Linked DNA regions of Homo sapiens. The protein of the gene in region 4 purifies or fractionates together with the protein of the main gene of each other region. This does not show direct contact. Each region holds a gene or a part of one and is shown on either strand. Other genes may lie near its edges. The genes, in order: CMTR1, MARK2, FKBP10 and TMCC2.

Evidence for each region.
Region 1: the proteins of TMCC2 (region 4) and CMTR1 purify together in Homo sapiens (affinity purification with mass spectrometry; 2 studies listed by BioGRID and IntAct, with this or other methods). This does not show direct contact.
Region 2: the proteins of TMCC2 (region 4) and MARK2 purify together in Homo sapiens (affinity purification with mass spectrometry; 2 studies listed by BioGRID and IntAct, with this or other methods). This does not show direct contact.
Region 3: the proteins of TMCC2 (region 4) and FKBP10 purify together in Homo sapiens (affinity purification with mass spectrometry; 2 studies listed by BioGRID and IntAct, with this or other methods). This does not show direct contact.

What each region holds. Positions count from the first base shown.
Region 1 is NC_000006.12:37,471,073-37,478,421, forward strand, and holds part of CMTR1 (cap-specific mRNA (nucleoside-2'-O-)-methyltransferase 1), read left to right. Parts: coding exon 1-5; intron 6-774; coding exon 775-832; intron 833-1,346; coding exon 1,347-1,415; intron 1,416-2,397; coding exon 2,398-2,529; intron 2,530-3,451; coding exon 3,452-3,574; intron 3,575-4,248; coding exon 4,249-4,340; intron 4,341-5,053; coding exon 5,054-5,122; intron 5,123-6,519; coding exon 6,520-6,567; intron 6,568-7,336; coding exon 7,337-7,349. UniProt on the Homo sapiens protein: S-adenosyl-L-methionine-dependent methyltransferase that mediates mRNA cap1 2'-O-ribose methylation to the 5'-cap structure of mRNAs.
Region 2 is NC_000011.10:63,904,829-63,911,588, forward strand, and holds the end of MARK2 (serine/threonine-protein kinase MARK2), read left to right. Parts: coding exon 1-215; intron 216-1,259; coding exon 1,260-1,286; intron 1,287-3,431; coding exon 3,432-3,476; intron 3,477-4,048; coding exon 4,049-4,409; 3' UTR 4,410-6,192; downstream 6,193-6,760. UniProt on the Homo sapiens protein: Serine/threonine-protein kinase. Involved in cell polarity and microtubule dynamics regulation. Phosphorylates CRTC2/TORC2, DCX, HDAC7, KIF13B, MAP2, MAP4 and RAB11FIP2. Phosphorylates the microtubule-associated protein MAPT/TAU.
Region 3 is NC_000017.11:41,807,765-41,816,050, forward strand, and holds the start of FKBP10 (peptidyl-prolyl cis-trans isomerase FKBP10 precursor), read left to right. Parts: upstream 1-5,239; 5' UTR 5,240-5,270; coding exon 5,271-5,515; intron 5,516-8,286. Other genes in the region: P3H4 (endoplasmic reticulum protein SC65), read right to left, coding at 95-240, 1,942-2,070, 2,916-3,270, 3,368-3,520, 3,690-4,151. UniProt on the Homo sapiens protein: PPIases accelerate the folding of proteins during protein synthesis.
Region 4 is NC_000001.11:205,265,904-205,273,252, reverse strand, and holds part of TMCC2 (transmembrane and coiled-coil domains protein 2), read right to left. Parts: intron 4,304-7,349; coding exon 3,369-4,303; intron 2,134-3,368; coding exon 1,998-2,133; intron 1,458-1,997; coding exon of another isoform or gene 1,441-1,457; coding exon 1,129-1,440; 3' UTR 1-1,128.

The DNA.
Region 1 (7,349 bases), on a different chromosome or scaffold from region 4:
GACACGTGAGTGTTGCCCACTTTTCAGAAACCACCTATTTCAAGGGAAGATCTTGCTTTTCCTCCCCACAAGCTGTTTGTTTTTTTCATTTCAACAAACATTTTAAAACACCTGCTTTTTTCTCATACTCTGCTATGGTCTCTGAAGGATGCCAGAGAAGCATATGACATGAGCTTTGTCCCCAAATACTTTACATTGTCTTTGGGCAGATAAGAGTAACCCAGGAAAAGGATACAGGAAAGGTTATTAACAGTGCATCAGAGGGTGTAGAGTGGCATGGCACAAGTAGAATACATAATGTTCAGGGGACACAGAGTAAAGAGTGATCAAGAGAGGAGAGGTAGGACTGATCAGAGAAACCTCGGGTAGGGGGTGAACATAAGCTAATTCAGCTTTGTGGGGCATGGTGACATCCAGTGGGATGGGTTTAGTGTGGCCTGTGTCAGCAGAAGAGGAGCTAGAACATGCTGATGGGTGATTGAAAAGGGTGTCGGGGAGGACCCTGGCATCCAGGTCGTCTGGAGGGCACTTTCTCCTTTCCCATTGTGGTGAGAAGGGCAGGTAATCCCATTTCGTGTATGTTTGAGCTCCTGTCTTCAAAAGGAGAGCCTTGCATGTGTTGTAATCACGCTGGGCCAGTGGCAGCATAGTGTCTGTGTGTACACTCACATGTTCATTCATTCAGGCCTCCTCTCTATGGGATATGAGGGGTGCACAGGGGGCACTCCTGTGCCTCTTAGAGATTTTAATCACTAACTGGCTTCATATTCCCAGGACACTGAGTGAGCCTCGACAGGCAGAGATACGGAAGGAGTGCCTCCGACTCTGGGGGGTGAGTATCTCCCCCGCCCATTGCTGCTTCAGGGCAGGGAAGCCATAGAGAAGAATGGGGTTGACTCCCAATCCTGTCACCTTAGGGTGTCTCTGCATCCAAAAATATCTGCTACCCTCACAGCATCCCAGAGGTTGACATCTCGGCATTGTTGGTAGTTACGTCCTTGGCCCTTTCACTGCTGGTTTGGCCCTGCAGCTGGGTCAGAAAGGACTAAGGGGTGGGGTGTGGGGAGGTGGGCCGGTGTCAGTTTTGCAACTGGTGGCCCCTTGTAGCAGCACTGACAACAGAGAGCCCCAGAGAAAAGGAAGTAGCCTTTGGGGTCCATTGCCACAGGATCTGAAAGGGAGCAGTGAGTGAATTATCCACCTCCATCCCTGTCAGCCTAGCCTCCTTTGTTGTGTGCCATTCCTCCTCCCCAGTCTGACCCTATCTCCTCCACCTGCATATACTCATACACGGTCTTGGTCAAAAGGGCATTTGAAAGTCAAAGCTCTTTGCTGTCTTATTTCAGATCCCAGACCAGGCTCGTGTGGCTCCTTCTTCCTCCGACCCTAAATCGAAGTTCTTTGAGCTAATCCAGGTAAGACTGGTATCTGTGGTGGACATAAAAAGTTAGAGATCTGTCTCTAGATGTGGATGGTATCACTGAGGCCCCAGATGCATGGTCTCCAGAGGGCTTGTGCAGATGCCCACCATGGGCTCTAAGGGGCGGAGCTAAGGCTGCCACAGGTGGGAACCTTTGGTATAGGGTGTTGAATTCCCCAAGAGCACAGTCAGGCCAACGGAAGATTCTCATGTTCAGTGCTTGGGCTCAGCATTCCTGCCACCCAAAGGGTGGTTCTGGCTGTGTCACCCTGGCAAGTTCAGGGTCCTGTGGGATTTGCCTACAAAGGAGACATAGAGTGTGGGATGATCTTAGGCAAGGGAGCTGGGCACAGGGTGAAGGGAGCTGCCAGGGAAGCCCGCAGCAGGGTTGGCCTAACCCCAGGTTCTTTGTCTTATTTCTGGTGAGCTGGTCCTCAGAGTTCTTTTGCCCTGTTTCTTCTACCACTCAACCTCCAGCTTTTACTTGGGCCTCATTTAAATCTGTCCCAGATCATGGGCAATTGTGCTGGTTTTGTGGGGGTCAGGGAGTAGAGACTGAGGTTCAAGATGCCCTCAAAAGAATAGTATGTGTACATTTTTCTAAATGGGGTAAAGAGATCACTAAACTGTTCTCAAACCAACTGCTGGAGAATCCTTGCTTTGAGTTTTATTGAAGGGGCAGCTTTTATATTCTGGTGACATTTTCTTATAGGTCTGGTAAATTGATCTGTACTTGGGGACTCAGTGTTCTTTCCTTTTCCAGCCTCTCCTAATAGGTCCTACAGGAACATTCCAAGCAGATGGAAATAGATCCCATTTAGTGCACAGTTAGGTAGAGAAGGGGGTGCAGGGGAGCATATTTCAGAGAGCCAATGCTTCCTGTCCCTTGCCTTGTCGAGCCTGCCCCCAGCCCAGATAGGCACCCATACTGTCCCTTCCCCCAACCCGGCAGTGTTTTCTCTGACTCGTGGCTGCAGGGCACTGAGATTGACATCTTCAGCTACAAGCCCACACTGCTCACCTCTAAAACCCTGGAGAAGATCCGCCCTGTGTTTGACTACCGCTGCATGGTATCTGGCAGTGAGCAGAAGTTCCTCATCGGCCTGGGGGTAAGTCTGCAGCTGGCTTCCTGCCCAGCTTGGAATGGTGGATTTGCCCTTTGCGGAATCTGGACAGCTGCCTGCCACACTTGGTACATGTTCTCTTGGCATTAAGTAGCTGTTGCTTTGACCCTAGTGAAGGTATTTCTTGAAACTTCGTTTCCTTTCTTCCTCTGAGTTTGCCAAGTGTCATTCATTCATTCTTTCATTTGTTTCTTCAATTCTGTGCATTGCTAAAGGGAACACTGCTACTTTTCTTGTGATACAGAGCTTCCCAGGCTAGCAGAGTGGTCAGCAGGCTTATCTGGCTTGAGCCCAGGCAGCCATTCCTTTGCAACACCACCACCACCCCATGCCATCCCATCCCCTGTCTTGCAAAGATACTCCCTGTCCCTACCCTGGGCCCCCTGGAGTCTAAAGTGAGGTGAGGGAAAGCCTTGGCAAGCTCTTTATCTTACTTAACTGGGTAAAGTCATTGCTTTTTCTTTCAACTCTTGACTTGTGTTTCTATATAATTTGATCCTGTCTTCCTCAGTTACTTCTTTTGTACCCTCTCACACTTTGTCTTTTTCTCATTTTACTTACTCTCTCCTTCTCTGCTCTCTGGACTCTTCACTAAACCCACCTTAGACATATACGAAACTGGATCTTTTTTGAGGGCCACTAATTATGGACTTAGGTCTTTTGAGTGGTGCCCTGCACCCGTTCCAAGGCTGAGCCAGATCTCTGCTTCTCTTCTGCTGAGGCACTGGAGAACACTACTATCATTATCACTAAAGTATAATGGATTTAATCTCTCATAGACATTTTCTTCTGACATTTCCCAGTCCCATCAGTTTGTAGCTGCCAACTAAAAGCTCTTTTGAGAAGTAAGCCTCTTATCCCTCGATCTCCATGCCTTCCTTACCTGGCTGTTTCTCTCTGCCTGTAGAAATCCCAGATCTACACATGGGATGGCCGCCAGTCAGACCGCTGGATCAAGCTAGACCTGAAGACAGAGCTGCCCCGGGACACTCTGCTATCTGTGGAAATTGTGCATGAGCTGAAAGGGGAGGTCAGAGATGGTTCTGCTCAGGTGTTGGCCCTGCAGCTAGGGGACTAGGGGGCTGCTGAACCTGGCCTTTTGCCCTGAGTTAACTTGGTTACATTGTGTGGTGGCTGACAGGGCCCAGGGCTGGGGTAAGGGTTTATAATGACTCCTCCCCGAGCAGTTGCTCTAAGCCACAGTGGTTCAGGTAAGGAGGAGCGCAGTCTCCGTGCGTCAGAGGAGACCTCGATTGTCTCTGTGCATTGAGGGCCCTGGTGAGTCTACTGGGTATTTTTTAGCAGCTGATTTAGTTTTTGACCAGAGATCCCTTGGGAAACAAGAGACTTGTTTCTCAGGAGCCATGAGTATGAAATCTATATGGTGACATTCAGAACAGTCAGTAGGAGCAACTGGCAAGGGGGGTAAGCCAGATCCTGGCTGGAGTGCCATGGCAGCAGCCTCACTGGGTTTGAGGTTCAAGGGGCCTTATCACCCAATGCCTTGGATCTTACCCTGCTCAGAAGCCGAGGCCAGTCTGATGCTGAGGAGCAGCTGGGAGGGAGACAAGAAAAATATCCTGCATTTAGAGCCCTACCCTTCCCCCAGCTGTAGGCAGAATGGAGCCAGCATGCCATGGTGGGTAGTGGGGGCTGAAGGCTGACACCTGGCAGAGTGGGCAGTGTACCTACTTATCCTTCTAGGGGAAGGCCCAGAGGAAGATCAGTGCCATCCACATCCTCGATGTCCTTGTGCTGAATGGCACCGACGTTCGGGAGCAGCACTTTAACCAGCGGTCTGACCTGGGCCCCAGGGTAGGGAGGGTGGGGGTAGGCCAGGGCAGCTTGGGAGGACAGCGGCCTCCCGAGGTGTGGCCCCTTATCTAGGCCTTCTCTGCTTGTTGACATCCTGAGAGTTTCCCCCTCCCACCCACTGACTGGTCCCAAAGTCAGGGTGAGAATTGGAGTTGCCACTTCAGAGTTTGCTAGGGCTTGGGCCCTGGTTATCAGAGATACCAGCACACTCCATTTTGCCACAGCTGCTCAGGTTGAGGTATTTATGTTAAGGTTGAGCAAGAGGGTGACCTTGCGGGTAGAGGGGGTACTCCTTGGAAGAAATATCCTGTGCTTGAGTGGTCCCATTTAAGTTGCTCATCTGAGTGGGTGCACTGTAGTTTCCATGCTTTGGGGTGACAGGGCAGACACATACAATAAAGATGATACTTGAAGTTCTAGTGGAGGTGACTGAGCACAGCTGAAGGCACACTTCAGGAAAACCAACCGACATAGTGAAATTAGAGGTCAGAATCCACAGGGGCGGGGCATGAATAAAGACGTCGGTGGAGAAGGGCAGGGCGGGCTTCCTGGGGGACATGGGTGCTGCCTCTTAGAGCAGTCTTGCCGCAGATTCAGAAGGTTCTCCTACTGGAGCTGTGAAAATGCCCTGGGGGTAGGGGTGCTGGTGGAGGCATCCTTGGCTTGCCTCTCAGAGAGACTGTTTGGATTGTAGAATTCAGCTTGCCGAGAAATTTGTGAAAGCCGTTTCCAAGCCTAGTCGGCCCGACATGAATCCCATCAGGTGAGCATGTGGTCCCTACCCTCCATGCTTCTTTCTGGCCAGTACCTGCTGCTCCCGTCCAGTGAGGGACAGGAGGGCTCAGTGGAGGGCACTAGGCAAGTGGGTGTTAGAGACAAGACCATTCTTGCCATGAAGTTTGTTTGGGGGTGCTAGGTAGGTGACTTGCCCCAGAGCATCTCCCCATCCTGCCTGGCAGTGGGTGAACTTCATTCTGAGGGGTTAAGGCATCCTTGTTTAGGATGCACGTGCTTCTGAGAGTGCCAGCCCACCTCATGAATACCCGTTCCCACTTGAGCATTGTTAGCACATTACCTGGCCTTTTAATTTTTTTTCAGGTAAGAAATGGGTGCTGAGGGAATAGGAATTTTGAACATGAAAAAGAGAAGGATTGTTTGAGGGAATGGGACCCCCAGTGCTGAGGGAGAAGGAGGCCAGGGTTGTAATGTTAGATAGTGGGAAAGTTCCAGGACCCTGAGAGAGAAAGGAGGAAGAGAACAGAGTCAGGAGGAGACAGATGGAGGACACACTTTTCCAGGGTAGGCTGAGGTCTGAGGTTATTGCCAAAGGGCACTGCTTAGCCCTGCTCTCGGGAGCTTCATGCGGCTGGAGACTGAGGTATCTATTTACACTTTATCCACATTGTTTTTGTTCTTTTTAACATAAATTTACTTAGTTAAAATTAAATCCAGTATTGAGAATGCACTTTATAGATGGCATGTGAAAGTTTCAAAGGAATTTCTTTCTGCACTTTAAAATGTCCTGTCTGCTAGGTCCTGAAAGACAGCTCCCAGGGGGAACCCTGCCTTCATTGCTTGTGGTTTGGTTGCTCGATTTCTGGGAACGTTCCCCACTAGCAGTTCCAAAGACATGTTCAGGGCCCCCAAGAGCTGAGCATGGGCATCAAACAAGAGCCCTGCATTCTTGTTAGGGTTTCCCCACCCGCTGTGGGTAATAGGACTATTAGGACTGTTTAGCAGTAACTTGTTATGGAAGGCCTAAAATCCATGTGGACAGACCTGGGCAAGAGCCTACTCCTTTGTTTTCTGCCCTCTGGTGATGGTGAAGATGACTTGGGGGTGGGAATGCTGACAGAGACATCTTTGTCTGCCAGACTTTTCTTCCTCTTTCTCCCTCCTGTCTTCAGTATCCAGTTTCACTCCCCAGTTGCCCTGACGCAGGCCTGAGGAGGTGCTTGGCAGCTCTGAAACCCAGGGCTTGTCTGTGTAGAACAGCCATGTTGGCAGGCTTGGTGTCCTCGCTGCCGGTGGGCTGGGTGGTTTCAGGGAGGGCCTGGGGCAGAAGCCAAGGTCAAGTGCAGTCTCCTGCCTCCCAGCTGCCTCCTGGATGAGAATGTCCCCCAGGAAGCCTTTGTCTTGTCTCTGTCCCTCTACCTGCAGGGTGAAGGAGGTGTACAGACTGGAAGAGATGGAGAAGATTTTTGTCAGGTGAGTGACTTGACCGGTGAAGCTCAGATTCAAGAGGAGGTGGGGGTGCGGCCGTGTCCTGTAGTCATCCTCCGTTTCATAAGATGGGTCGGGGGCGGGGGGTGGTGAGCTGCCTCCAGCGGTCCCCTCACCTCATCTGCCTCGCTGCAGCACTGCTTGCAGTCAAGAGTCCCCCAGCTGACAGCTGCTTCAGCATCCTATCAGGAGGGAGCCAGGCGGGCTGTGTCAGGCAGAAATACGGGCTCATTGATGCTGTCATAGTTACGATGGGCCCTGCGAGGGGCAGAGCAGCAAGCTGCTTGAAATACCATAAATCCCAGCTCCCGCTGCTGAGAGAGAAATTGAGCCTGGAGGGGTAGAAGGGGCATAAATGCGTCCTTATATTCTTAGTGGTGTGCGGGTGCTCACAGAACTCAGTCTCCTTCTGGGTGTGCTTATGTAGAGGTTACATTAACTCTTCAGTGGCTGCAGTGTTGCCATGGGCACCCGTGGTGTCAGATCTCACCCTTACTGGTGTCACCCTGAAATCCCTCAAGCAGCAGTGACACAGCAGGGTCATTTGTTACTCCCCTGCCTCCACTGCCTGAGTGGGAATTCAGGGCCTGAATTCTAAACTCAGCATGGCCACCCACTCGGCTGTGTGCCTCAGTTTCATCTTAAGTCAAACCAGGATCAGATACTGCAGTTGGGGTGATTTTATTAGTCAGAGACTAATTTTATCAGCCAGGGCCTTTTCTCTCTCATGCACGTACCTTCTCGGGGAAATCAGGTTGGAGATGAAG
Region 2 (6,760 bases), on a different chromosome or scaffold from region 4:
AACATCAGCAGCAGTGGTGGAGCCCCAGACCGAACTAACTTCCCCCGGGGTGTGTCCAGCCGAAGCACCTTCCATGCTGGGCAGCTCCGACAGGTGCGGGACCAGCAGAATTTGCCCTACGGTGTGACCCCAGCCTCTCCCTCTGGCCACAGCCAGGGCCGGCGGGGGGCCTCTGGGAGCATCTTCAGCAAGTTCACCTCCAAGTTTGTACGCAGGTAAGCAAGGAGCTTTGGGTGGCAGAGAGGCTCAGGCCAGGCCTTCCTGCTTTACTCGGGGTGGGTTGGGGGTTGGGGGTTGGGGTTTGGGACACTCTGTACCGGTATTGGGTCCTGGGGTTAGAAGAGGCTTCAGGAAGCACAAGAAATTAGGTCTTTGTCAACACCTTATGTGCCCAGGCCCACCCCTCTTAGGCCTCTCCCCAACTCCTCACAGGCACCCCTCATTCTCTGGCCCCAAGCAGATGGCCGATGCCGCCTCCTCTCTAGGAGAGTGTGAACTCAGATGCTAAAATAAAAGCCCCCCCTTCTCTCCTGGGTTCCCATGGAAACTTATATTTGGTGACGCAGCTGCAAAGTCATGAGGCATGAGCCAGGCTGGGGCCAGCAAGGAAAATTTTGTCCTGGTCTCTTGCCCCTTTGACTGCCTCTCCCACTAGTTGGTTCTGTTTCTGGCTGCAGGCGCAGCCATGCCCTTCTGCCCGGGGGTTTTAGGGTGAAACCTATAAATGAAATCACTGGCGAGGGCCTACAGTGGCCTCTTCCCTAACCTAACTCCGATGTGCCAAAGGTTTCCTGTGTTGGACCCAGGGTGGGGATCTCTTCACGGGGTTTCTCACACCTGAGCCCCCAGCCACCACAGAGGTGCAGCTTGAAGTGCATCCAGCCAACTGGCTGGCCTCCTGGGATGCTCCGCATCCCCATCCTGCCATTCCTCTCCCTGCCTTGGAGTAGCAGCTCAGGAAGCAGCAGGGGCTTTGAGAGAACAGGCTCGCCTGCCCTTCCTCTACGTTTCACTCCACTCTGCTGGAGGAGCCAAAGCCACTGCCCCATCCGAGCCCCAGAATGCAAGTGTGAGGCCTGCAGAGAGTGTGGGCAGGTCTGAAAGCCTGGGACTCTAGTCTCGCTGAGCGGCTCTTCCGAAAATGGGATGACCCTTGAACCTGTAAAGCCACCTCCCCCACCTGCTTATCCACATACCGTCTTGTTGGTTTTTTTTTTATTTCTTTTTTTATTTTGTCTTTTTTTTGTTTGTTTTTTTAGAAATCTGTCTTTCAGGTTTGCCAGAAGGTAGGCGTTGAGCCCGCTGTGTGTGTGTGTGTGTGTGTGTGTCTGTGTCCTGTGTCCTGCCTCCATCACTAACTCCCCTTTTCTGGCTCTTACTCTCCTCCATCTGCTTAACCAAGTCTGTGTGGCCCTCCTCTCTCTGCCATCTTAAAGGGATGAAGACTGCCTCTGATTGGGCATCAGCACAAGGCCTGCCCTCCGTGCCCCCAGTACAAACAGGCAGGGCTAAGAGGCCACATTGGCCCACTCAGGGCAAATGGCTTTAAAAATGAGGGCCTTCCTTGGGCCCACAGTTAACGCCTGTCCTCAAGTAAGGGGAGACTGTCTCAGGGAAGCCTCCCTTTAAGATTGTCTCCTCTCACCCACCCCACCCCACCCCCACTCCCTCTCACCCCAGGTTTTGGTCACAAGTGTTGGGATCCTTTCCTGCCCTTTCCCTTGTCATGTGCATGCGCTATGAGGAAGCTCCAGGGTTACAAGTGCATCTGGGATGGTATCTTGTTTGTTGTCTCCTGGGTTTCCTGAACTTCAGAGCTATGTGACCTCTTCCCCGTGGCCTATGGGATCGCAGGACTTTGGAGACACTACGGGGACCCTGGGGCCCCAAGGTTTCAGTCTGGCTCCCCCAGACCTTAGGAGCTTTTGTCTCACAAATGGAGCACAGCACCCCCTCCTGGCAGCTCCTGCAGAACTAGCCCCACCCACCCGCACCCCTGCCCCAGCACCCCTGCCACCAGCAGCATCTGGATAAATCAAGCCTCTTCTCCTCTAGGCTGTTTTCTCCAGATATGGCCTGTCTCTTCCAAAGTGCGGGGAGCTGGGACATTCTAGGGCAACGGCCATTCTACCCCAAGCCGTAGCAAAACAACAGGAGATCTCTGCACCCTTACTCAGGGGTCTCCCTTCACAGTCCCCTTCCTGGCTCTTTCACCCCTGGCCTTATGCTCATCCTCTCTGCAGGCCTCGGGGACCAAATACCAAGCTGAAGACCAAGGGCCAGGTTAAGAGTGCTTGTTCCCCAAGGCTGTCTGCTCAGGCCCTGCATTGGGACTGGGATGCCTGGCAGGCACATTGGTGCCACAGCTGATGGAGGAACGTCCAGACAGGGTCTTCAGGCTTTCCCTATCCCCTCCTCCTCCCACCCAGCTGTTGACTGCATGACTGGCTGCTGCCTCAAGGGGCCCCAGCAGGGGGCTGCCCCACAGGGGGTCTGGAGAGAGCAGGGAGGGTGCCTTCCTCGCACAGCCGGGCTCCCTGCTCGCAGTGCGCTTGTGTGCACCCCTGTGTTGGTTGTGTCTTCCTGTTTATTTCTATGTGCTGCTGCTCTTCCTCCTTCCTCTCATATCCTTCCTCCTCTGCAATCCCCAGTTTCCTAGCTCCAGACACCCATCTTCCAGCCAGGAGCTGGAGAAGCCGCTCAGCGGGGCCAGACCTCTTCCCCACCCACCCAACCAAGGTGTCTGCCCTGCCCTGCCCCACCCCACCCTCATCCTCCCTGCGTATGAGCAGATGGCCTGGCAGGCCAGCAGGTAGGGGAGTTGGGAAAGGTCGGAGGAGGCCGCCTTTTCCACTCAGCAGCAGGAAGCCATCCCCAGGTGCCTACCATGCAGACCCAGGCCTTGGCACTTTGAGTCTCCTGACAGGCCCTTGCGTAGCCACGGCCCCTCCTCCTACAGAGATTCAAAGCATTGCAGCCCCTTTCCTCCAAAAGGACTGCAGTCCTGAGACCCTAGCGTGTGGCTCCAAAAACGCACTCACACCTGCAACCCCCAGAACAGCGCGTGAGCCCTGGCTGTGGGGGAGCAGCCTCGTGCCGGGCCGTGTGCTCAGTGTGCTCAGTGAAGTGCGTGCACAGCCACTCCCCCTCCTCCCCCAGAGCAGAGGCTCCTTCTCCCCGGCACAGATCTGGGAATGTGGGGAGGGACAAGCCCCATGTGCTGGGCTCCCTGCTGGAAAGGAATGGTTGAGCCGCCAGTGTGAGGTGCTGCAGAGCCCTGTTGGCTTGCCAGGTGATGGGCAGAGGGCCCTGGGCTTGGGTCCTGCCCACCCACTGGTGGCACCTCCCCAGACCCACTCTCATCTGGGTCTGTGGCGGCGGAAGGAGCGAGAGATCCCAGCACTAAACTCTCCCTCGCTCTGTTTTTTGAGGAACCTGAATGAACCTGAAAGCAAAGACCGAGTGGAGACGCTCAGGTGAGAGGGCTGGAGCCAGCACTGGCCCTGCCCGGGCCACCGGGCTTGCCACAGCCTCCTGCTCCTCTCTTCCTTCTGCCACTTGGCTCTTCCTCCCGTGGTTCTGCCCTGTCCCTACCCTCTGGGGCCTCCCTTTCCTCAGAGAGTTTCCCCTTCCCAAACCCAATTGCAGGAGTTACGGGCCCTTCTCCTCAGGTCTGGTATATTCTGGAAGTCGGAGTTCTGGGTCGGGTGGTTGGGGCTACAGATTCCTACCCCTGGACTATCCCACCTCCCTGTGCTCGGAGGCTTCTTTCTGGAGAGAGAGTCTGTGCTCGTGCTGTTGAGGGCACTGGTGTCTTCCCTGACCCCACCCCGCCTACCCCAAGGCTGGCTTCTCCTCCCCTTCGCTGTCCTGAGAGATGGGGGTTGGAGGACTGCCACCCTCCGCCCCCGCAGGCCAGGGGCCACGCCTGGCTGCTCCTGCTCCCTCCCGCTCTCCTCTCTGGGCTCAGGGGCTGTCTGCCAGGGTGGCTCTCCTGGGGTGGGGTGCCTCAGCCCCCCCGTGACGCCCGCCTCTGCCCTCTCCACAGACCTCACGTGGTGGGCAGTGGCGGCAACGACAAAGAAAAGGAAGAATTTCGGGAGGCCAAGCCCCGCTCCCTCCGCTTCACGTGGAGTATGAAGACCACGAGCTCCATGGAGCCCAACGAGATGATGCGGGAGATCCGCAAGGTGCTGGACGCGAACAGCTGCCAGAGCGAGCTGCATGAGAAGTACATGCTGCTGTGCATGCACGGCACGCCGGGCCACGAGGACTTCGTGCAGTGGGAGATGGAGGTGTGCAAACTGCCGCGGCTCTCTCTCAACGGGGTTCGATTTAAGCGGATATCGGGCACCTCCATGGCCTTCAAAAACATTGCCTCCAAAATAGCCAACGAGCTGAAGCTTTAACAGGCTGCCAGGAGCGGGGGCGGCGGGGGCGGGCCAGCTGGACGGGCTGCCGGCCGCTGCGCCGCCCCACCTGGGCGAGACTGCAGCGATGGATTGGTGTGTCTCCCCTGCTGGCACTTCTCCCCTCCCTGGCCCTTCTCAGTTTTCTCTTACATGTTTGTGGGGGGTGGGAGATTGTTCTCCAGCACCCCACATTCACCCCTGCCCAGAGATTCCCCCTTCTCCTCTCCCCTACTGGAGGCAAAGGAAGGGGAGGGTGGATGGGGGGGCAGGGCTCCCCCTCGGTACTGCGGTTGCACAGAGTATTTCGCCTAAACCAAGAAATTTTTTATTACCAAAAAGAAAAAAGAAAAAAAAAATCCCAGCGGCCACCTTTCCTCCCTGCCCCATTGGGACAGTCGAGACTGGATCTGTGGGGTTTCCCGGGAGGGTGGCTCAGGGCTGGAACACTCTCAGGCAAGAGTGGTGGAGCTCCCGTCAGGCCCTCCGCCAGGCCCACTGTGGGCTTCTCCCCTCTCCTCCCTCCTTCCCCTCCAAGCAAACCACCAGAGGTGGCCTTCCCCTGACCTCAGGCCCCTGGGCTGGAGGCCTGGGCGGTGGGGCAGGGGGCGGGGGTGCTGCGCAGCCCTGCAGTGGGTGGGGCTGGGGGCTGCTCCGGGGCTGCTGAGGCTGGAGGGCCGGCACAAGGCTCCGCCTCCCTCCACACTGTACCCTCTGCCCCTCCTCCCCAGAGCTGGGCATTTCCTTCCACAAGCTGCTGTGGGGACGTGTGTTCCCTCAAAGTCTGTGCCATCTTCTCCCACCCCTCCCGGGTAGAAGGAGGGGCTGACCCCAGGGCTGGGAGAGGGGAGGGGACTGGAGGGCAGACTGGCTTCTCGGTCCCCAGGGGGCCGCTTGGGCTGTTGGTCTCCAGAGCAGGGCCACTGGGCACTCTGTGATGGGGGAGCCTTTGTCTGAAAGCACAGCCCCCTCGCCCTTCCTCTCCCCATGGCTTCCCCTTCATTGGCATTAATCTGGGCACCAGCTCTCTCCATAGCAGTGACTTCCCTCACCACTCTCATCTCTCAGCCTTGCCTTTTCTTCCTGACACTGTCGCCCCCTCCTCTCAGGAGACACTGCCGAGGGCCACCTGGCAGAAGGCTGAGTTAGGCAGCAGGGCCGGGAGCGTCTGCCCTCCACAGGGTGGGGGACAGATAGGCTAAGCGACTCCCAGCTTGCTACCCTCAGTGGCCAGTGTGGGCGTGGGCGGTTTGGGGCGCTTGGCTGGTGGTGGCCACTGCATCCCTTAATTTATTTCTCTGCTGTTTCTGTTCTTGAGAAATTGGGGGTGGGAGTCCTACACAGAGGCTGCCCCTACCCTCACCTGAGTTGTACATTTTTTTGTGATGGGTTTTATTTTTTATTATTTTATTTTATTTTTTTTTTTTTTGATTTATGATGACTCCACCCCTCTTCATCACCCCCGCTCCCAGGCCAGGCTCAGCGATTAAGCCGAGCCCTTGCGTCCTAGGAAGGGGCCTTGCCAACCTCAGCCCTCCTGCCCCACACTCCTACTGCGGCTCAGACCAAGGGCTCCCCCTCCCTCCCTTCCCCCCTCCTGCCCTATGGAACAGCCCGGGTGCTCTGAGGGGGCTGGGAGGGCATGGCTTGGCTCCCAAAGGGGGTAGGGGCCCGGGGCACCCAGGCAAGGTGGCCCCTCCCCGTCTAGCCCCCTCCTCCCCAACCCTGCACTTAGTTTCTCCTCTGGATCAAACACGTAATAAAGAGAATGTTTGGAATCTGAGCTGCCTCCTCCTGTTTCTTCTCCCAGCCAGGCAGGGACCCAGTCTCCTGTGGGCAAGATGTGGCCTAGCCCACCTGCCTTGCAGGAGAGACTTGATTCCTGTCTGGGGCCAGTGCTGGGTGGGCCCAGCTCCCCACTTACCCACAGGGCACAGACAGGAAGCAAAGCCCAGGGCCCTTGCACCAAAAGGGAAAGAAAACTCAGTAAGCTTAGATTTTATTTTTTTTAATTTTTAAAAAATGTTGAAAAATAAATCCATGTCTGCATAAGTTCCCAACCCCCATTTCTCCAAGTTTCTGGAAGGTGGGCTTGGTGGGCACCCTCAGCTCCTTAGCATTTCCCAGCTGGCCCCTGAAGACAGAGCTTCTCTTCCAGCCTCTGCTGCTGTAAGGCCCCTCTGCCCACCTCCCCCCCTGCAGCCTCCCTCCCCACCTCACCCCAGACTTATTGCTAAAAGAAGGGAAAGAGGAATGAGAACAGCCAGCACACCCAACTGCCCTCTCCCCACTCCACGCTAAGGTCACTACCCCGGACACACAAAGGGCAGGACCCAGAGGCCAAGCCCCAG
Region 3 (8,286 bases), on a different chromosome or scaffold from region 4:
TGGGATTACAGGCATGAGCCACCGCGCCCGGCCGCCAGGAGTTCATTTTTTACAAAGTGCATATCCAGCAAGTGCCCCAGAAAGCAGTGCCCACCTCCCGGGGCTGGAAGTCCTCCTCTTCCAGGCCCCAGCGAGCCCGGTGGAACCGGTAATACACCAGGTTCTGCTGCATGACGCTGTCCTTGGGGTCGAAGAGCATGTAGCTGGCGGCGCTGCGGGCAGCCTGGCGCACATCATTCACTGCAGCAGGACAGGGGTGAGGAATTGCTCTGGCACTTCCCCTTCAGAGTCAACTCCATCTTCCAGTTCAGTCCAGCACCCCTGCTACCCAGCCACCTCCCAGAATACCTAATGGGCTCCTTATCCCACCCAAGCATAATGCCAGCTAGCATGTAGTGGGCACTTACCCTATGCCAGGCCCTGACTAACTCATCTAAGCCTCACTGTTATTGTCTTTTTATTGTTTTTGAAACAGGGTCTCACTCTATCACCCTGGCTAGAGTGCAGTGGTGCAATTATGGTCACCTCAAGCTTGATCTCCCAGGCTTAGGTGATCCTCTCACCTCAGCCTCCTGAGTAGCTGGGATTACAAGCAGGCACCACCACACCCATCTAATTTTTTGTATGTTTTTGTTTGTTTTGAGACAGGGTCTTGTTCTGTCACCCAGGTTGGAGTGCAGTGGTGTGATCTCGGCTCACTACAGCCTCTGCCTCCTGGGCTCAAGCAATCCTCCCACCTCAGTCTCCCCAGTAGCTGGGACTACAGGCACGCGCCACCATGCCTGGCTAACTTTTTGTATTTTTTGTAGACACGGGGTCTTGTCATGTTGCCCAGGTTGGTCTCGAACTCCTGGGCTCAAGCCATCTGCCTGCCTGGGCCTCCCAAAGTGCTGGGATTACAAGTGTGAACCACTGTGCCCAGCCATGCCTACCTATTACTGTCATCCCCATTTTACAGTCAAGAAATCTGAGTCACAGAGAGGTTAGATAAATTGCTCAAGCTCACACAGCTGGAGAATGATGGCTCTAGTGAATTAGAGGCCCTTAGCCTCTCTGCTATGTGTACCCAGGAAGGGTCTCCTGGCCCCTGGGTTCTCAGCCCCTCTGCTCTGACTCCTGGCTCTGTCTGAATCTTGGCATCTCCGAGCTGCAGGAACACTGGAGGCTGTCCATTCCAGCCCCAGTGGATGCCAGGATCTCTCCAGTGAGGAGAGCCACAAGTCCTGGTGCCACTTTTTATTAGTCATAAGACCAACAGCCCCTTGCCCTATAAGCCTCAGTTTCCCCATCTGAAAAATCGGTCCAGTAATGCCAGCTGCATGGTGTTGGTGAAAGGACCACATAAGATAAAGTGACTTATAAACTCTCAAGTGTTGGCCGGTCATGGTGGCTCATGCCTATAATCCCAGCACTTTGGGAGGCTGAGGCAGTGGATCACCTGAGGTCAGGAGTTCAAGACCAGCCTGGCCAACATGGTGAAACCCCGTCTCTACTAAAAATACAAAAACTAGCTGGGTGTGGTGGCAGGCACCTATAATCCCAGCTACTCAGGAGGCTAAGAGAATCACTTGAATCCGGGAGGCAGCGGTTGCAGTGAGCCGAGATCGTGCCCCTGCACTCTAGCCTGGGCAAGAGTGAAACTCCGTTTCAAAAATAAAAATAAACTGTCAAGTGCTCTGCAGTTGTTGGTTGTCTAGTCATTTGCCCAAAAGACCCTCTTCTTCTCCCTGAGGCTGCTGTCTGTTCTCACTCAGAAGCCTCTCACCTGCCCCAGACTCCCAGGGTGCCTTCCCCATATTCCCACCACCCCTAGACTTTCCTCCTATCACCCAGGGTCCTCAATACTGAAGGAAAGCTCCCCACAACTCTGGGAGGCTCCCATACAGTCCTCTCCCTTATCACCTCGTCCCCTGCCCAAGCCAGCCCACCCAGGGGGCTCACACTTATAGTAGGCAAACTGCAGGTAGTGGTACATGGTGGCCACGAACTTGTCCACGAAGTAGCCACCCACATTGGGGGTCAAATTGGCCTCACAGTCCACCTTGCACTGCAGGGACTCTGCAAAGAGATCTGAGGGTGGGAGGCAGCAGTGAGAGGCTGGCATTGCAATGAACATCTCCGTCCCCCCAGTGGAGAAGACTCTAAATCCAATCTCTGCCTACTAAGCCAAGCTGCTTGTCCAGAAAATGTGTTGCTGTTGCAATCACAGGAGAGAATGTCTGTAAAGTGCTTGGCATACTATATGACAAGTGATGGTGAGGAAGATGACTGTGGGCTGGGCTGACTCACCACCCCTGCCACTCAACCACCACCCCAAGCCAGAGGGAGCCAGGGCATTCTGGGAGAGCAGCAGGTGAGGTCCAGAAATGGGGCAGAAGTCCAAACAGAGAAGCTAAAGGACAGTCTTTTTTTTTTTTTTTTTTTTTTGAGACAGAGTCTCGCCCTGTCGACCAGGCTGGAGTGCAGTGGCGCGATCTGGGCTCAATGCAACCTCCGCCTCCCAGGTTCAAGCGATTCTCCTGCCTCAGCCTCCCGAGTAGCTGGGATTACAGGTGCCCGCCACCACGACCAGCTAATTTTTGTACTTTCAGTAGAGACGGGGTTTCACCATGTTGGTCAGGCTGGTCTTGAACTCCTGACCTCGTGATCTGCCTGCCTCGGCCTCCCAGAGTGCTGAGATTACAGGTGTGAGCCACCACACCTGGCCAAGTACAGTCCTTTCTGCCCCTGCTCGAGGGACCCCAGGGTTAGAGATCCCAAGACTAGGTGTAATTTCTGGTTATCAACTGCTTTCTGCACACATCTGCTGGGTTACTTCTCACCGCTGCACCTTTGCATCTGCACTGCCCTCTGCCTGGAAGGCCTATGAACCCAAGCTTCCCAAACCCTTTAGGGATGTCACTGCCTCTACTCACTGATCCAGCCCCTTGGACACTCCCAGCTGGGGCCCCTGCACCCAGCGTCTTTCTCAACAGACAAGGCCTTCCTCCCGGCTGGCTCCTCCGCATTCGCAGTGCTCCACGTGCATGAAGGGGACATCTGCCTTACCGGGCCCTGTGGGTGAGAGGACCGCCCACCGTGGTCTGGGTGGCAGATACCTGCTATGGCCGGGTAGAAGTCCTTGAAGTCCACCTGCTCATGGGCCCCTTCACAGCCGGCCAGGCACCGGGCAAAGACTGCCAGGTACTCTGACAAGGCCCGCTCCATGTCCTCCGTGCTGCTGCGGAAATCCCCGCTGTTGTAGAGCTTCACAGCCCGGAGGAACACGGCCTGGAAGGGGCGTGGCAGGGGGAGTCAGGGCGCCCCCAACATCTCCCCTCCTCTACTAGCCCTCCTCTACAAGCCTCCTCCTGACCCTCCACCCCACCTCGTAGGGCTGGGCCTCTAGGTCCGTGAGGGACTCGTCGGCGACGTCCAGCATCCCCTGATAGTAGTTGAGATACTTGGCGGTCAGCTCGTGCTTCGGGTTCCTCTGGAGGAAGGTGTAGGCCGCCGCCACCGCCTTCTCCAGCCGGTTAGCCTGGTCGGGGGGTAGGGGGTGGGGGAGCGGGTCAGCAAGACCGGAGCTCGCGGCCCCGAGCGCACGGCGGGCTTCGTGCCTTGGGTGAAGATAACGCTCCTTCGACCGATCTGTGGGGAGCCACGACGCCCAGCCCGAGACAGGTCCCCGGGTGGGGGCGGGCTCCCACCTTGAACAGCGCGTAGTGCAGGTACTGGTAGGGCAGGCGGCTCTGGAAGTCACGCAGCAGCTGCCGCGGCGGGTAGGGCACCTGGAAGGCGGGCAGCGTCCGCTTGCAGCGCCGCAGGCAGGCGGCTCGCTCCAGGACGCGGCCGAAGAGCCGCAGCTCGCAGGCCCACTCGTCTGCGCGGCCGCCGTCGGGATCGGGCTTGGCCGCGGGCGCGGGGCCGCTGCAGTTGGCGTGGCAGAAGGCCTCGCTGTCGCGCAGGAGCCGGTGCAGCCGCAGCGCCGCCTCCAGGTAGCGCGCGCTCTCGCGCCAGCTCTCTCCCTCGTACTGCTCCAGAGCGTGCCCGTACGCCGCGGCCAGCGGCATCAGGTCCTCGGGCGGGAAGCCCCGGAAGCTGTACTTCTCGTACTGCGCCCCGGCGCTGCCCAGCAGCAACCACAGCAGCCCCCACGCCACCCGAGCCATGCCCGCCGCGCCGCCGGCTCTCCGGAGCTGAGCTGGCTGCCCCGCGGACGGAAGGGGACAGGGCCGGGCCCCGGGCGGGCGGCGCGCCCGCTGGGTCTTAGCGCCGGGCACGAGGCGGCAAGGTGGGGCGGGGCCTGGGTCACGACGTCTCCCCTCTTTTCCCAGAGGGTCCGATAGTGTCGTTAAGTCCTCTCCGTCGGCCCGGGCTCCTGCCTTGGGGGTGTCCCCTAGGTAGAGAATGCGTCGGGGAGCGCTTCCCGCCAGAGATGGGAAGCCCAGGAAGCCCCTCCCCATGCAAACAGTGCCCCCGCCTGAGATCAGGACACTGAGTGAGGGCCGCCTCCTCTGCGCTGCCCATACGAGAAGGAAGCCCTGGAGCCGGGCCTTCCGTCGCTGCGCCCTCCTGCACCCTCCGAGTGTCTCCCCCGCCCACGTCGGAGGCACACACCTGCTGTCACCTGCACACCTTGCGCTGCCACCACCCCCCACTCCATCTCCGTGCCCGTCACATCCCAAGTCACAAAGTCCTTCTTTCAGTCCAGCTTTTGCGGGACCAAGCTGCTCTTCCCTGGAGATGCCTTCCCTTGGAGTACAGCTGGGGTCACGGATGAGCACGGAGATGCCTCTCACACTCCGCGGCTTCACCACCCACCTGGAGGGGACTAGAATTCGAAGTGCCCGCGAAAGAAGCAAGGTTCATCTCCGCCCGGCTTTAGGACCCGGGGGCTCCGGAAAAAGTCATTGAACTTTTTTTTTTTTTTTTCCTTTGGTGTCCACTCAGAGTTCTCATCTTTCCCGAGCCTCTCTCCCTGGCCAGGCCCCAGGTCTCGCAGCCAGGGATGGAGATGGGGGGAGGGGGAACCTAGAGTTCTTTGTAGTGCCTCCCTCAGACTCTAACACACTCAGCCTGGCCCCCTCCTCCTATTGCAACCCCCTCCCCCGCTCCTCCCGGCCAGGCCAGCTCAGTCTTCCCAGCCCCCATTCCACGTGGACCAGCCAGGGCGGGGGTAGGGAAAGAGGACAGGAAGAGGGGGAGCCAGTTCTGGGAGGCGGGGGGAAGGAGGTTGGTGGCGACTCCCTCGCTCGCCCTCACTGCCGGCGGTCCCAACTCCAGGCACCATGTTCCCCGCGGGCCCCCCCAGCCACAGCCTCCTCCGGCTCCCCCTGCTGCAGTTGCTGCTACTGGTGGTGCAGGCCGTGGGGAGGGGGCTGGGCCGCGCCAGCCCGGCCGGGGGCCCCCTGGAAGATGTGGTCATCGAGAGGTACCACATCCCCAGGGCCTGTCCCCGGGAAGTGCAGATGGGGGATTTTGTGCGCTACCACTACAACGGCACTTTTGAAGATGGCAAGAAGTTTGATTCAAGGTAACCCCGGTTGGGCGCCCCCGGATTCACCACTCCGTCCCCTGAACCCGGGGTCCTGTTTCCTTGTTGCCTCTTTTAAGCTCTGCATCCCAATACTCTAACCCTAGACAGCACCCCTGGGGCCTCCCAGACACCCATCTCCCCAAAGATACCCTCCTGCCCCCACTTCCAAACCCTCACTTCTCAAAGGATCCCATTTCTTTCTCACAAGCTCTCCACATCCCGGAAAGGACTCGATAATCAAGGTGAACTGCCTTGTGTAGTTACCAGGGCTGTATGTAATGACCTGATGGAGAGGGGTGTTCTGATCTACAGTGTTGGGGGGAAGGGGGTGGTCCCTGCTGCTTAAGAACCCTGGGATGGTCTATCAGCCTGGACCCCGTACCTTTCCACCCACCCTGACTCCCCTTCTGGTTCCACTGTTTTCAGTGCCTTTGTGGTCAGAGAAGAGGGAATAGAACTTTTTTTTGGAGGGGGTGGGAGTTTTCAGCGGCTGGTGGGCAGGGAAAAAGGCTGGTGGGTATTATAAGAAGACAGCCGGCTGGACCTGGGGGTAGCGCGTGGCTCCCTGCGGAGGCCCTGTCTACGTGTCACACAGTCGGACATGCCACCCTGGGCTCCTTGGAGGAATTTCATTCCTCCCTCTCTGGTTCTCCTGGAACCCTCATCTCTCTCCATTTTAGGTACACCAGGCCAGAGGCACAGGCCGCCCATTTTTGCCAGCCTTGGGGTTTGTAAGGTGGCCTCCTGGTCTGACCCAGGCCTTTGGTCTGCCCCAGCAAGTCCACTTTTGTTAGCGGGGACAGGGCAGGGCTGTATGCCAGCCTCAGGGGTAAATCTAGGGTCCCAGTTACACACAGACCCCACAGCACACTGAAAGAAGTCAGTGTTTCTTAGACCCTCCTCTGAAACACACAACTCAGCCCACAGGAAATTAGTGGCCATGACTTTAGAGGCAGGCATATATTGGGGTAAGCCTACAAACTCCAAGAGTCCCAAGACCCTGGTTCAAATCCAGGCTATGACCATGGACAGAGAATTTTGTCTCTTTAGGCATCACTTTCCTTATCTGAAAAGTGGAGACAAAAACAGGACCTACTTGCTAAGGCTGATGTTAGGACTCCAAGGACATGGATGAATGAACGTAGGCTTCTCACAGGGCCTGGCAGTCCTCCAGCCAGTTCAGCACACATTAACATTGACCCTGAGGAAAACCATATGACCTGATGCTGTGGAACTTGTAGAAACTTAATGCAGAGCTTAAGCCTTCATAACAACACTGAGAAGGAAACAGTCCAGACTTAAAACCTGTCTGCTTGGTGGGCAAATTCAGATATAGGGTAGTAGCCAGAAGTGCAGCCCTGAGCCCTTGACTGCTAGGAGTGAGGCAGGGGTTGGGATTTAGGGGATGTCATCCCTGATGGGGACTCTGGGAGCCCAGCTCATGAGTGTTGAGCTTGGAAAACTTTTTGTTTTTTAGCTGGAGGCTCACTCTGTCGCCCAGGCTGGAGTGCAGTGGTGCCATCTCAGCTCACTGCAACCTCCTGGGTTCAAGCAATTCTCCTGCTTCAGCCTCCCAAGTAGCTGTGATTACAGGCGCATGCCACCACGCCCAGCTAATTTTTGTTTGTTTGTTTGTTTTTGTTTTTTGAGACACAGTCTCACACTGTTGCCTGGGCTGGAGTGCAATGGAGCAATCTCAACTCACTGCAACCTCCGCCTCTGCCTCCCAGGTTCACGTGATTCTCCTGCCTCAGCCTCCCGAGTAGCTGGGATTACAGGTGCACACCACCACACCCGGCTAATTTTTTTGTATTTTTAGTAGAGAGGGGTTTCACTATGTTGGCCAGACTGGTCTTGAAAAAGGCGGGTGGGTATTATAAGAAGACAGCCAGCTGGACCTGGGGGTAGGGCATGGCTCCCTGCGGAGGCCCTGTCTGTCTACGTGTCACACAGTCAGACATGCCACCCCAGCCTCGTGATCCGCCCACCTCGGCCTCCCAAAGTGCTGGGATTACAGGCGTAAGCCACGGCGCCCAGCCTTAATTTTTCATATTTTAGTAGAGATGGCGTTTCACCATGTTGCTCAGGCTGGTCACAAACTTCTGAGCTCAGGCAATCCACCCTCCTCAGCCTCCCAAAGTGCTAGAATTACAGGCGTGAGCCCCCGCGCCCACACAACTTAGAAAACTTTTTTTTTTTTTGAGACAGAGTCTTGCTCTGTCCCCCAGGCTGGAGTGCAGTAGCGCGATCTCTGCTCACTGCAAGCTCCGCCTCCTGGGTTCACACCATTCTCCTGCCTCAGCCTCCCGATTAGCTGGGACTACAGGCGCCTCCACAATTTTTTTTGTATTTTTAGTAGAGACGGGGTTTCACCATGTTAGCCAGGGTGGTCTCCATCTCCTGACCTCATGATCTGCCCGCCTCGGCCTCCCAAAGTGCTGGGATTACAGGCGTGAGCCACTGCGCTCGGCCAGAAAACTTTCTTAACCCATGGCCCCTTCAATTAAAAAAAAAAAAATCTCCCATCCTCACTTTACTTCTGAAAACTTAAAATAAATTAAAAGTGTATATAATTGGCTGGGCACAGTGGCTCACTCCTGTAATCCCAGCACTTTGGGAGGCCCAGGCAGGCAGATCACTTGAGGCCAAGAGTGACCAGCCTGGGCAACATGGCGAAAGCCCTCTCTACTAAAAATACAAAAATTAGCCAGATATGGTGGTGCATGCCTGTGATCCCAGCTGCTACTTCGGAGGCTGAGGCAGGAGAA
Region 4 (7,349 bases):
CTTTTCCAAGAAATCCCCTCTCTTCTTAGAAGTGCCCATGGGAGGCTGGGATGTGAAAAGAAACCATACACAACACTCCAGAGCCTTAAAAAAATAAAGCAACAACCTCCTCCACACGAATACACTTACAAAATAAATAGACGGATAAAAGAGAGGCCACGTGCCTCCCATCCCGGCTGTAGGGCTGCTTGGGGATAGTGGGGCTGGGTGGCTCGGTCCCACTTCTCCCAGCCAGGATGATCCAAAGGCTAAATGGAATGGAAGGGCCCTGGCTTCAGAGAGAGGATGGGGCAGGACCTCTCCTGGTACTCAGCAGGGAAGACACTGGGGGCACGGGTAGGGAACAAAGGAACAAATAAATAAATAAATAGAACCCAACAGCACTCTCAGAGGCCTAAGGGCTTAGGGTGAGGCTCAGGGGGGCCCTGGGGCCTGTTTCCCTGAAAATAACAGATCCAGTACAGGCAGAAAGAACAGAAGGGAAAACACAGGCCACACCCACCTGGCCTGCAGAGCCCAGCCCCAGAAGGAGGCCTCAAATCAGCTCTACAGGGAGGAGGGGTGGGGTGGGGATGCTGAGCTCCACACTAGCTGCTCTGAGCCTGCTCTCTGGCCCTGGAGGTGCCCGAAGGCTAGGGACCCTCCCATCCCTGTGTTCTCTGCGGCCAGCAGAGCCTCCTCCCTCACTCTCCAGCCTTCATCCTCACCATCTCCACCAGAGAAAACCGTAGCTATCTCCGAGGTGGGCTCTTTCCTAGGAAAGTTGAGGCAGAGCCCTCTCCTCCTATTCTTAATGGTCTTCCTGACTTGGGGCATCCTGAGGGTCAGCTGGGAGAAGTCCTTGTGTAACTATAAATAATCAAAACAATCCAACCCCATGTCCACCTCTGCTCCACTTGGCCACAGGTGCCCGCACTATCTCCAGGTAGGGCTGCATTCTAAGCTCCCTTCAGGCCAACAGGGAGAAGGTGTCAGACAGAAGCAAGTACAGAGAAGGGGGCAGGAGCTGCTGGAATGGACAGTTTGGGCAGGAGGCCAAACTGGACACACAAAGAAGTCCAAGGGTCCCTCCTGGAGAAGTGTGGCCAGCTGGGGGCCAGAGAGCACAGGGTTGGTGTGGCTGGCCACTCAGCTGGGCAGCAACACGTGCTCCAGGAGGTAGGTGAGGGAGTCCCAGTGCTTCCAGAGGAGGAACAGGACGAGGACCAGGAGGGTGGTGCTGGTGATGCGCAGGCGTGTCTTCATGAGGGGCGTGATGAAGTTGGCGATGGTGGACACGAACACCAGCAGCACGGCCATGAGCGCCAGGATCACGTTGATGAACTTGCCCAGCAGCGCCCGCGCGTTGGCATTCTCCACGCCCTCCAGCTGTACCACCTGCTGCTGTTGCTGCTGCAGCTCCAGCTTGGTGACCCGGGTCAGGCAGGACTCCACGGCCTCCTGCAGGGGCAGAGGGGCTGGCATGTGTGCGCTCAGGATGGGCAGGACCCCTAGGCTGAAAACCTACCTACCCCACTGAGAAGGTGCCTATAACGAAGTCTCCTCTCCAAAGGCCAGGAGGAGTGGAGGTTGACCAGCTGCAACTGGGGTCAGAGACCTTTAAGGATGACTCTTTGGGGAGGATGCTAGGAAATGAGAGTCTTGATTACTAGGGAAGGAAAAGAGCTGGCCCAATCCCAGCTGGCTCCCTCTTGAGGCAGGCTGGAGCCTGGAAACTCCAAATACTCATTTGCGAAGCTGCCATCAAAGAGGTGGGGGGCATGGTGGCCTCTGCCCTGTGGGCTTGCCTCTGCACAGTGCACGCTGTCAGCCTCAGGCCTGTCTTGCTCACTCCACTCCGCTCCCGCTACGCTGCCCTCTTCATCCATGTGCCTATCGGCCCCGGCCAACAGGCCAGCCTGTGTCTATCATGCCCCACGTGACAAGAACCCTAACCCTCTGGCTGCTGCCAGCTCTACCAGCACATCTGGGGCCTCCCAAGGTTGCCCTGGCCATACCTGGATGTCCCGTGCCCTCTCATAGGACTGGTAGGCCACCTTCTCCTCCATGCTGGCCAGCTCCTGCTTCAGGTTCGTCATCTCGTTCTGATGAAGCTCAGTCAGGTCGTTGAGCTGCTCCTCCAGCCGCTCGTACCTGGCGGAGGGAGAGAGAGTGACACCAGTCCTGGCTCCCCGAGCTTCCACTCTCTCCCACAGTTGATTCATTCATTCTCTCAATAAACAATGACTCAGCCCATCCCCCGTGTCCAGCTCTGCTCTGTTCTAATTTTAACAGCAACAACAATAGAAGCTACTATTTACACAGCACTTCTTAGGTGTAGGCACTGTGCTAAGCATTTTACCTACATGACCTCATAGGATCCTCCCCACAATCCCATGAGATAGGTGCCAGTGTCATCTCCATTTTACAGAGGAGAAGACTGAGGCGTGGAGGCTGAGGAGCCTGCCTAGGATCACGCAGCTCATGAATGGAGGAGTTAAGGATTGGCTGACTTCAACCTGGGCTCTTAAGCCCTAGGCTCAGATGCTCTCTGGGTACCAGGGACACATGGGTGTAGAGGACACAATCCCGGCTCTGAAGGCACAAAATAGCGTAAGATGACTGTTATGTGAGGAGTGGTTAGCTTTTAGGTGGGGCTCCCCTTCAATTTTCCAAGCCTTCTTTATATATATGGAGAAGAAAAAGAGAAAGTGCTAGCTAAGGAAAAGATCCCCCCACAAGCCCAGGGAGCGAGCGGCAAGTGCTGCAGAGGCACAGAGCCAAGGGCAGAAAAGGGCAGCACAGGACCGGAGGGAGACACAGAAGGAGAGGCCGAGAGATGTCAGCTCTGTTCCAGGCTGGCCCCAGGAGCTCCGACTGGAGGTTCATGTTTTGGAAGCTATACATCCATTCACATGCTTCGACTTTACAGGTCTGGACTCATTGTATCTTTATGACCCTATGAAGAAGGAATTAATGTCATCCCTGAATTGAGGTCAGGAGATCGAGACCAGCCTGGCCAACATGGTGAAACGCTGTCGCTACTAAAAATACAAAAAATTAGCGGGGTGTAGTGGTGCGTGCCTGTAATCCCAGCTACTCAGGAGGCCGAGGCAGGAGAATCGCTTGAACCCAGGAGGCAGAGGTTACAGTGAGCTGAGATCGTGCCACTGCACTCCAGCCTGGGCGACAGAGAGACACTCCGCCTCCAAAAAATACAGAAGGAAAAAAGAAAGAAGGCTCCTTAGGGCCTCGTGCTGGCTCCTTCCAGCAGCCAGGAGGCTGAGGATGCTCCTCTGACTGCCTCCACACCCTGGGTCTGAAACCCAGTGCTCCTTGCCTCATCCCACGTCCGGCTGGGCTGCAGGAGGGGGTGGGCAGGCACCTACCTGTAGCGCTCCTCCTGCAGGCACTGGGTCATGTAGGTGTAGTCCCTCTGCAGCTGAGTCTTCAGGTCTTCCATGGAGTCCTCCAGGTGAGACTGTCCCTCCTTGATCTCCCGTAGCTCTTCCAGCAGAGCATCCAGGTTTCCAGGAGCACCATACAGTGCATTGGACTTAGGGCTCCCCAGCGCCCCACCAGGCCCAGCCCCAGAGTTGCTGCCTGCCCCGGCTGAGCTGGCGCTGGCGCTGGAGCACTCATCATCGCTGCCATACTTGGGGCTGGAGACGAGTGTGGCACTGCCGCTCAGTGCCCGGGCTGCCTCCTCAGGGGGCCCATCTTCCAGGGGGTCCTTCAGGTGGGCGATGTTGTCAGCACTGCCAAACTTGTTGCGGATGAGGCTGGCAAACTCCCGGGGCTTGGACACCACGGCGGTGTGGGTGGCCTGTGAGAGGCCAGAGAGGCTGCCCTTGACGCCCTCCACCACGCCGCCCCCAAAGCCGCTGATGCCTGCGCGCACGTTGGCGCCCACGTCCTTCAGCCCCTGCTGCATGTCCCGCAGCACGTCCTTGGGCTGCCGCGAGGGCCCGTTCTGCTCAATCTCCTTCAGGCGCCGGCGGTAGTGCTCCAGCTTCTTGTGCAGCTGGGCGATGGTCTGGGCTGACTTCTGGTTCTTCTTCTCGAACACTTGCTTGATGCGTGACACCTGCTGCTTGTCCGCGTTGTTGGCCAGTTTCAGATACTCTGCCACATTGTCGTCGCGAGCCTCCTGCTCAATCTTGATCTGCTCGGTGATCTTCAGGATCTTCTGGTGCAGGTGGTCAATGGCGGCCTTGGTCCGCTGGGGGTCCGGTGCCCCATCGGGCACGTCCAGGCTGATGGGGCCGTCGGTGTCACCATGGCCGGCGGGGAGGCTCAGGGCCACCAGGTCTCCCTTATCGACCTGGGGAAAGAGGCAGGCAGAGGAAGCATGGGTAAACCCTGGGACCATAGGAGTGCCCCTGGATGCCTCTGGACTTGGTTTTTCTATCTAGAAAATGGATGCAGGAGTCCAAAAGAAGACAACCACCACAAGAGCAGTATCCCTGACAGCCACTTACACAGGGCTTTCACATCTGCTCTCTACCCCGTCCCCACAGCATCCCCAAAATGCAGTCTAGGCAGAGCTGCTCCTCTTTTGGCCCAGAAAGGTCAAACAAGTTGTTCAGGGACACACGGCCAGGAAGGGACAGAACCTCCAGCCCAGAACTCTTTTATTTATTTGTTTGTTTATCTATTTGAGACACAGTCTCGCTCTGTTGCCCAGGCTGGACTGCAGTAGCGTAATCTCAGCTCACTGCACCTTCCACCTCCCTGGTTCAAGGGATTCTCCTGCCTCTGCCTCCCGAGAAGCCAGTATTACAGGCACCCACCACCATGCCTGGCTAATTTTTGTATTTTCAGTAGAGATGGGGTTTCACCGTGTTGGCCAGGCTGGTCTCGAACTCCTGACCTCAAGTGATCTGCCTGCCTTGGCCTCCCAAAGTGCTGGGATTACAGGTGTGAGCCACTACGCCTGGCCCCAGCCCAGAGCTCTTAAAGCTCCAGCACATGGACCAGGCAGGTCTGAGGCCTCACTGGAGTCATGGGGTTGGATTTCTGAGGAATGAGACAAATTTTCTCTCTGGACTCAACCACTTCATAAGGCTCCTGCCTTGAGCAGGCCTCTCCCTCAGGGCTGACCGCCTACACTTTGTGCCCTGCCTGCCTGCCCTCGCCACCCCATGTTCACTAACAACGCAGCTCAGCGGGCCACCCTGCCTCTGCTGACACCTCTCCCAGGCCCTCCATTACCTTACGGCTCTCCAGAGTCATTGGTAACCTTTTCCGCTTCATAATGGTGGAAGCCCCCAGTCCTTCCTAGTATCCGAGAATTGGGAGAGGAGCATGCCCCACCCCCACCCTGCTGGCCAGGTCCCCGAGGACTAAAGCCCCAGAAGTAACTCAAAGGCCAAGGGAAGCAGGGACCAGTTTGGGGGCCTGAGGCTACTAGCCGCCCAGCTTTGCAGAGGGTGAATGCGTAGGAAGGAAATGACAGCCCCCTTCACTCCCCACCAGGCGGGCAGGCTTCCCGAGTGCATCAGGGTGGCACCAAAGTCGGAGAGACAAGGAAAGGAGAAGAGAGACTAAGAAAGGATGATGGGGAGGGAGAGAAAGGAGGAAAAGGTCACAGGAGATAGGAAAGATGGGAAATGTAAGGTGGGCTGAAAGCGGGGAGGCCTGAGACCTGCTCCCCTGGTGCCTGGTTCCTCTCAGCCTGTTGGAGGATCTTTCTGTCCACAGCTGAGTCCCCAGTGTCTTATCGCCATACAACAACGGAAGCAGCAGGAAATGGCTCAACCCCATGTATTTTTACACACAGCACACCCCAAGCAAGGCTGGGTCAGATCATTTGCCCTTAGTATGTATGGGAGGGGGCAGGGGTGTGGTCAGATATATGTGGGGGAAGGGGTTAAACACAAAGATAGTGGCCCAGTCACATGCACCAGAACTGGAAACAGTCCCTGCCAATTACAGGCATAAGTCACTTGGCTTGATTCTGCCAAGGTGCAAAGTTATTGGAAAACACGATTGAAAATAATAGCCCTGCCAAACTCAGGAGCCAGGGGAGGGCGGCTCCTCTGTGGGCTTCCACTGGGGCTTTTCCAGGTTACACTTCCCCCTGGGGATGCTGTGGACAACCACAACCCCATCCCTAATCACTCCTGAAGTCAGGACTTCCCTCTTATGTTTGCTTTGGGTCTCCCCTCATCCCCCCTTGACCTCCCAGCAGGTGCTCATACCTTCAGGACTCTGCTTCTCAGAATTTCTGACCTTTCATACCCACAGTCTCCCTTAAGTGATCTGCTCCAAGGTCTTAACTGTCCCAGTAGCCTGACTTAAAACCCTAACCTGCAATTAGGCTGCTTCTTCCTGCCTTGTTCCCTGCAGTGACAGCAAAAAGCCCATCTCTCCATTTTCCTGACCTTCAGTGTCCTCGCCGACAAAAAGCGGGTAATCACAGCTACTCTCAGGTCTTTTGTGAGAGCTATACAAGATGACGTCTGGCAAGCTGGCATAGTGCGAAGCATACAGAAGGTGCTCATTAAACGCTGAATCTGAATCTAGGCAGCGTAATCCCTTTTTTCCCCTGGGAGAAAAAATGCCTGCAATCAAGCTGGCCTAAATTTATTTCAGAAATTATACCAACAAATTTACTCTGTATTGCTAGAACTACACAAAATTAACGGTTTTTTTTTTTTTATTTGTTTTTTGTTTTTTTTTGGAGACGGGGTCTCTGTCGCCCAGGCTGGAATGCAGTGGGGCCATCTCAGCTCACTGCAACCTATGCCTCCTGGGTTCAAGTGATTCTCCTGCCTCAGCTTCCTGAGTAGCTGGGATTACAGGCATGAGCCGCCACGCCCGGCTAATTTTTTTGTATTTTTAGTAGAAATGGAGTTTCGCCATGTTGGCCAGACTGCTCTTCAACTCCTCATCTCAGGGGATCCACCCGCCTCAGCCTCCCAAAGTGCTGGGATTACAAGCATGAGTCACCGCGCCCGGCCCAAAATTATGTTTTATAGGCAACACATGGCCTTTGATGTTACAGAACTTTTTTTTTTTTTTTTTTTTTGAGACAGAGTCTCGCTCTGTCGCCCAGGCTGCAGTGCAGTGGCGCAATCTTGGCTCACTGCAAGCTCCGCCTCCGGGGTTCACGCCATTCTCCTGCCTCGGCCTCCCGAGTAGCTGGGACTACAGGCGCCTGCCACCATGCCCGGCTAATTTTTTGTATTTTTAGTAGAGATGGGGTTTCACCGTGTTAGCCAGGATGGTCGCGATCTCCTGACCTCATGATCCGCCCGCCTCAGCCTCCCAAAGTGCTGGGATTACAGGCTTGAGCCACCACGCCCAGCCCAGAACCTGTCTCTCTTATAAAGCTGCTGCCCTTTCCACAGATGCCCAGCTCTCTT